Linked DNA regions of Homo sapiens. The protein of the gene in region 2 interacts with the protein of the main gene of each other region in a biochemical or structural test. Each region holds a gene or a part of one and is shown on either strand. Other genes may lie near its edges.

The links. The genes of interacting proteins can lie anywhere in the genome.
Region 1: the proteins of USP3 (region 2) and COL9A3 form a complex in vitro, tested with the Homo sapiens proteins (one study listed by BioGRID).

What each region holds. Positions count from the first base shown.
Region 1 is NC_000020.11:62,827,030-62,830,777, reverse strand, and holds part of COL9A3 (collagen alpha-3(IX) chain precursor), read right to left. Parts: intron 3,538-3,748; coding exon 3,484-3,537; intron 2,856-3,483; coding exon 2,802-2,855; intron 2,015-2,801; coding exon 1,961-2,014; intron 1,856-1,960; coding exon 1,802-1,855; intron 1,324-1,801; coding exon 1,279-1,323; intron 1,151-1,278; coding exon 1,097-1,150; intron 1,013-1,096; coding exon 959-1,012; intron 419-958; coding exon 365-418; intron 262-364; coding exon 190-261; intron 1-189. UniProt on the Homo sapiens protein: Structural component of hyaline cartilage and vitreous of the eye.
Region 2 is NC_000015.10:63,556,464-63,560,211, forward strand, and holds part of USP3 (ubiquitin carboxyl-terminal hydrolase 3), read left to right. Parts: intron 1-203; coding exon 204-285; intron 286-1,642; coding exon 1,643-1,725; intron 1,726-3,393; coding exon 3,394-3,507; intron 3,508-3,748. UniProt on the Homo sapiens protein: Deubiquitinase that plays a role in several cellular processes including transcriptional regulation, cell cycle progression or innate immunity.

The DNA of each region.
Region 1 (3,748 bases), on a different chromosome or scaffold from region 2:
TAGGGGGTGGGGGACTGTGGTGGGGGTTGGGGGACTGTGGTAGGGGGTGGGGACTGTGGTGGGGGTTGGGGGACTGTGGTAGGGGTTGGGGGACTGTGGTGGGGGTTGGGGGACTGTCATGGGGGTGGGGGACTGTGGTACATGGGTAGAGGGGGTGCAGGGGAGCTTCCTGCTGAGAGGGCCACTTACCCGGTCGCCCACGTCACCTCGGAGGCCCTGGGGGCCTGGAAGGCCGGGGTCTCCCATGCTGCCCTTCTGGCCCTGGGGAAGGAGGTCCTGGCTCGTCAGTGCCCATACCCTGTCGGGTCTGGCCCGTCTGGGTGTGCCGCCCCCCATGCCAGGCCCTTGCCCCAACCTCACCCACCTGGAAGCCTCGGACACCAGGGGCTCCGGGAGGGCCTTGTGGGCCGAGGGCCCCCTGGAAGACAAAGGTGAGGTGTGAGCGGATGTCTCAGGGTTCGAGGAGTCCCCAAGAGGCCCCAGGGAGCCTGGCTCAGCCTTCCCCCAGAGTGGGTGGACACAGGAGCCGGTTCTAAGCCACCTGGCTGGGTTGCTGGGGACAAAGGCAGGGCTACCTCCCAGGGCAGTTTAGGGGGTCTCAGAACTCAGGCATACCCTGGACCCAATTTGTCAGGCCAGACTCGGGGCCAGGCACCCATGCCCCTGGCTCCCCCCACCAGGGCCCTGTGGCTGGTGCTGTCATTATCTCAGTCTATGGGGGCACAAGGCTGGGCTCAGCATAGAAGGCTTGAAAACAGGGCAGCTCCGGCCTGGCCCCGACCGTCTCCCAGCGGGTGAGGGACAAGAAGATGGGGCCCCACACCTCCTGGCATCCTAGGCTTTTGTGGGCCTGGCCCATCAAGGCAACCAAATGCCACCCCGGCCTGCTCAGAAACTGGGGCCATGTGCCAATGGCTCAGTGCTAACCCCCGACCCCGGGCCATGTCCCTGCACTCACCGCTGAGCCCCGGTGGCCAGCCTCACCGCGCTCCCCAGGCATGCCAGCATCTCCCTACAGGGAAAGGAAGGAGGGTGTCAGGGCAGGGTCTGCACACAGGCTGGATGGGGAGGGGTCTGGGGCGCCGCAGATACTCACAGGGACGCCTGGCTCTCCAGAGGGGCCGGCCTCACCCAGCTCCCCAGCTCTGCCCTGTAGAGGAAGGAGAGCTGTGAGTGCCTGCCTACACCTGCACTGGGGCCAGGTCGCTGGCCCCCCAGCCCCTTGCCTCCCGGCCCCTCGCCTCCCCTCCCAGAGAGAAAGCGGCTGCAGCCACATACCCGTTCTCCCTTCTCGCCTTTGGACCCCGCTCGTCCAGGGAGGCCCTGCCAGGAGAGAGCTTGCGGTCAGGGCTGCCAGTTACATTGCACGCCGGCAGCAGCACCCAGGGGCGTGCACGCAGGCAGGGTGCAGGGGCCAGAGTGAGTGCACCCAAAGGCAGGGCCAACTTCTCCCAGCCTTGTGGACCTGAGGTGCGGCTTTGACAGCCTCCCTGGCCTTGGATGCAGGAGCCCCTACTCAGAGCCCATGGGGGTGATGACCGCACGGCATCCAGGGATGGCCATCAACATGTTCACACATGTCCCATGTACACACGAATAAGCACACACATGCAAACATACAGGCAACCGTCCACAGCACCCACTGGGCACCAGGGGTTGTGCCAGGCCCTGATGGACACAGGCCCCAGAACCCCTCACAGGGAGTCGGCCCTACAGTGACCAACCCACCCAGCCCAACATGGGCCACTGAGCAGGCAGAAGCTGTGGCGCCCCAGGCTGGCCCCACCCGCCGGGCACTCACCGGCAGCCCGTTGGGGCCCTTCTCTCCCGGAGCACCGTTGCGACCAGCCTCTCCCTGTGAGGACAGAGATTGGGGTGCGGAAGGGGAGGCTGAGGCCTCGGGAGGCCGAACTCCCCTCCAGCCCCCTCCCTCCCGTCACACCCTGAGCCCCATGCCAACCTTCTGGCCATCGAGTCCTGGCACGCCATTCTGGCCGTCCTTGCCCGGCATGCCCTGGGGACAAGGGATGAGTAAGGCCCGTCGGGCAGTGGCCCCCCTCCCTCCCTCTACAGTCCTGCCCTGGGGGCAGCCTCCTTCCCCATCAACCTAAAACTGTGTCTGCCCCCACACCCTGGCAGTTATCTGGTTTCATGACCAAGGTGGCCGTGTGGCAACCAGTGCTGCCTCGGTGACCGCACAGGTGAGGGGTGCGGGTGGGTGGCAGAGGCGGTGCTGATGCAGTGCTGACGCCCGAGGCCTCGTCCACCAGGCACATCATGGTGCCCTAAGGAAGTTTGGTTCTGGCCCATTTTACGGTGGGGAAACTGAGGCCTTAGGCCAGGCCTGCCTCGTCCACCCTGGACTGGTTTTGGAATCAGGACACAGCCAACTGCTGGGTGTCCCAAGACAGGGCACTACTCCGGGGCAGAGGCAACACGAGGGGCTAGAAGGGAGCTCAGGTCTGGGCTGAGGGTGGGCACCCAGCAGGAAGGAAGGTGCCCGCATGGGTGCCCGGGACCCTGGGAGTGCCCACCTCTGCCCAGTGGTGCTACCCACCCACCCTTACTTCCCGTGTCCTCTGTGCAGGTAAACCCAGCCTGAGGCCCCTACTCCTGCACACTCGTGAGGCTCTGGGCAAGAGAGAAATGTGTGGGGCTGCGGGGCTGTTCCACCGTTAACCCAGATTTCAAGATGGCCACAGCAGAGGGCACTGAGCTCCAGCCCTTCTGAATGCCATCTCCACCTGTACATACCCAGGACCCGGGGGAGGAGCATTCCATGAGCAGCCACGTGCACTCACCGGCTCTCCGCTTGGCCCGGCCACTCCGGGGGTTCCCTTGGGACCAGGTCTGCCCTAGAGGACACACAAGTGACAGAAGCAGTGGCAGTCTCTTCCCAGACGGCCTCACGCATTCTCCGGCCAGCTGCTCGGGGACACCAAGGAGCTATGGTGGGCAGCGGCAGGGGCCACCCCCGACCACCACCCTGGGGCCTGTGGGTGCGTGGAGAAAACTGTGTTTGGATCCACAGATGCTGCAGGACGGCACGGCGGCTCCCTGCACTCCGGCTGCCAGGGCTCAGTCGAGGGAGGTGTGGAGGCTGACCAGTCTGGGGACGGTCACTTCAGTTCCACTCCTGGAACGCTTGGCTGCCTCTGGACTTTCCTTATGTTCACTTGCTCAACCCGAGAGCCGTTTTCTCTGGGGGCAGGATCCAAGCCCTGGAGCCTGGTCCCTCCACCCGGCTCGTGGGCCGCTCTGCAGGGGGCCACAGAGCTCCCATGTGGCTCTGGGAGAACGGCTGGGGCCAGGGAGAGAGCTCGGGCCCTCCAGGGTCAGGCTCACCCCCACGCACCCCCAGGCCCACCCAGGCAGCCCCTTGCAGTCTCACTCCCAAGTGTGTCCCCCTCCCCAGCACGAGTCAGGAGGGAAATTGGGTTCTTCCACATAAGGACCCAGGGAACCAACTTCCCTCTCACTTACGAGGTCACCCTTGGGGCCGCGGAACCCTTCTGGGCCCCTCTCGCCTCGGTCACCCTGGAAAGGATGAGGTGGGGCAGGGACAGAGTTAACACCATGGAGTTGGTCGGAGAGTAGGACGGGGGCCCCTCCAGGCCCGGGCGGGGGACAGCCCTCCAGGAGTGGTCAGAGAGTGGGATGGGGGCCCCTCCAGGCCTGGGCCCTCCAGGAGTGGTCAGAGATGGCTGGAGGTGCCAGAGGGACGATGGTGACCCCTCATTCCACGTCC
Region 2 (3,748 bases):
CTGCTGGAGGAGCAATGGGGATTTCCAAGGAAGTAGAGCTCCTCGGTTAACTTCAAATACGTGTGGGCCCCAGTAGGCCTGACGAAGCAGTCAGGGAGGTCTCCATGCCCTAGGTGTTGAGGGCAGCTGGAGTTTATTCTTTCACCTGTGGTGTAGCATGCATATATTAATAACTTTTTCACTATCTGTTTGTGTTTTAATAGCTCAGCTTTCACAGCTGACAGGCATAAGAAAAGAAAACTTTTGGAAAACTCAACACTAAACAGCAAGTTATTAAAAGTAAATGTAAGTAATTAAAATTTATTCAAATATAAGAGTTAGTTGAGATTTAATCACTGTTTTGTTACAACTCTAACATGTAATGTTACCTGTTACAGACTTTTATAAATGTGTGTCTTGGATTTGGAGTATTTTACACAATGTTTGCCACCTGTACTGTCGATTGTTGCCGTGACCCCAGTGAGTCCATCTGTCAGCACCTTCTTCCCATCAGCGTTACTGCTGTGCTCCTCTTCCCTAGAAAACAGTTCACTCTTAATACTTGCTCACACTCCTTCGTCATCAGAAAACCCAGCCTTTGTTTTTAAGACTAAGTCTTTAGCTTCAGGCGGCTTTTCCTTTTTTTGAGATGGAGTCCCACTCCGTAGCCCAGGCTGGAGTACAGTGGCGCAGTCTCGGCTCACTGGAACCTCTGCCTCCCAGGCTGAAGTGATTCTCCTGCCACAGCCTCCCAAGGGGGTGGGACAACAGGTGTACACCACCACGCCTGGCTAATTTTTGTACTTTTATTTTGTTTTTGTTTTTGTTTTTTTTTTTTGAGATGGAGTCTCACTCTGTCACCCAGGCTGGAGTGCAGTGGCACAATCTTGGCCCATTGCAACCTCAGCCTCCTGGGTTCAAGCAATTCTCCTGCCTCAACCTCCCAAGTAGCTGGGATTACAGGCACACGCCACCACGCCCGGCTAACTTTTTCTGTTTTAGTAGAGACGGAGTTTCACCGTGTTGCTCAGGCTGGTCTCGAACTCCTGAGCTCAGGCAATCCACCCACCTCAGCTTCCCAAAGTGCTAGGAGTACAGGCATGAGCCACCACACCCAGCCTTTTTGTATTTTTAGTAGAGACGGAGTTTCGCCATGTTGGCGGCCTGTCTTGAGGCGCCTGGCCTCAGGCAGCTTTTCAAGATTCATATCCCATTGTTAGGAAAACGTGTATTGGTCGTTTATGTATGGCTTAGAGTTAAAAGTTTGGGGACAAAAATACTTGGGGTGTATATATTTATATTTTTTCCATTTCTCTTAGTTTTTATAGAATCTTAAAAAGGCATTAAGTCTTAAATGTTATTTTAAGGATTTCCTGTTTTTTGCATTGTGTACTCCATGGTACTCATTAATGGTGATTTCCTCATAAGCTTTCAATAAGATACTTCTATTTAGAACAATCCCAGGATCAGAAACAGCCTTCTAAAAATATCCAGACATTTATACAGAGACTAGAGAGTTTGTTTGAAATATTCATTGGACAGAAAAGGACCAATTCCAAATTGGCTTGGTGCTAGATTTCAGAGGCCTTTCCTTAGCTTTGATGTTTGAAACAGTTGGCCTTCCCTTGGCATTACTGATGGCCTCTTCTTGCACCACTTACAGGGAAGCACCACTGCCATTTGTGCCACAGGCCTTCGGAATTTGGGGAACACATGTTTCATGAATGCCATCCTTCAGTCACTCAGGTAACGCTACAGTCAGAGCTTAAGTGTCTGACATTAAAGGTTAAGAGCACGGGCTCTGGCTCCCTATCTCGTCTGCCACTAACTCTAGTCATATGGTTTGGAGCAAGATACCTTAATTTCCTGTGCTTTTGTTTCCTCATCAGTAAAATTGGGGACAGTAGTTCCTACCTCATGGGGTAGTTGGGAAGATTGAATAATGTAATTTGTCTAAAGTACTTAGAGCAGTGTCCTGCAGTGAATAGTTGTTTGCGGTTATTTCCGGTTGCTTTTTGAATAGGCTAGAACTGAGGTCAGCAAACTTTTTCTGTGAAAGGCCTGATAGTAAACATTTTAGTATTTCAGGCTACAGTCTCTCTCAGATATCCCCCACCCCCCCGCTCTTTATTAAAACAACACTTTAGGGCCAGGTGCAGTGGCTCAGGCCTGTAATCCCACCAGCACTTTGGGAGGCTGAGGCGGGCAGATCACCTAAAGTCAGGAGTTTGAGACCAGCCTGGCCAACATAGTGAAACCCCATCTCTACTAAAAATACAAAAATTAGCTGGGCGTGGTGGCATGCGCCTCTAGTCCCAGCTGCTTGGGAGGCTGAGGCAGGAGAATCGCTTGAACCCAGGAGGTGGAAGTTGCAGTGAGCCAAGATGGCGCCACTACACTCCAGCCTGGGTGACAAAGCGAGACCCTGTCTCAAAAATAAATAAATTAATTAATTAATTAAATAAAACAACACTTTAAAAATTTAAAACTCGCTTTAAGAGCTGCCTGGTGGAGGGCTAGATTTGGCCTGTGGGCTACAGTTTGCAGACCCCTGGGTTACAGAGAGCCTTGTTCAGAGAGCTTATTTCAGTCATTAGTTAAGTTTTAACCCATTTATGTCAGAGGTTGCAATTTTTCTGTATGAAAAATCAGACGTTGGTGATGACCTCGATCAGTAAGATATAAATAACTCCCAGAAGCTTAGCGTTCCAATAATGGAACACTAGGCATAAATGGGTTAATCAAGGTCATAAGATGAGATGTCTTCAAAATATGAGACAAGTAGTAAAAATAAAATAGTCAACAAGGCTGACTTAAGTTTTGTAGAATAAATTATTTTGAAAGTTGCATACTTTTAGATTTTAATGAGACATCAAAGGCCAGAATAAATGATCTTCCCAAGGTTACATTGCTGATAAGAAGCAGAAGGCATATTTGATCTCTCCTGGAAGGCACTGCCTCTTAGCTTATCTCTTCTTGCTCAAAGAGGAAATTATAATTACTACTGAATTCTCCTTAGGATTCTGTATAGTGTATCAAAATAATATGGTCGGTTTCATGGTTTGTTTTTATTTGAGGAAATTATTGAATAACTGGAAACAAGCAACCGAAAAGAAAGAAATGGTGACTACCTATAGCTGGAGGGAGAATTGGGGATTTTTTTGAAAAGAGATTTTGTTTTCAGCTCTTTGTTTTTTGTTTTTGTTTTTTTACAAAGTCATCTGTCTATACTGTTTTCTTAGAGAGAAGGAAAAATCATAATGAAGAATCTGAATGCAAGAGATTGCACTGAGTACAGTTTAAATGAGACAATTGAAAAATGGCAGTTTCAAAATGTATATGTAGGCTTCATCAACTTTCTTTACAGTCCTATTCTTTTCTTTTTAAAATATTTTTCCCTTCCTTTTAAAATAGTAACATTGAGCAGTTTTGCTGTTATTTCAAAGAACTGCCCGCCGTGGAGTTAAGGAATGGGAAAACAGCAGGAAGGCGGACATACCACACCAGGAGCCAAGGGGATAACAATGTGTGAGTTATAAGAGTATGTCCTTTCTGGCTTTGAGTTACAAAACAAATTACTTTCACTGGTGGTTTCCATTGTACTAAGTGAGCTAACAGGCACATGCCTTAAAAAAAATCTTCTAAAAATTGTGTTTAAATATCTAGTTAGCAATCTTAATAATTGTTGGAATTCCGGCCGGGTGTGGTGGCTCACGCCTGTTATCCCAGCACTTTGGGATGCTGAGGCGGGTGGATCACCTGAGGTCAG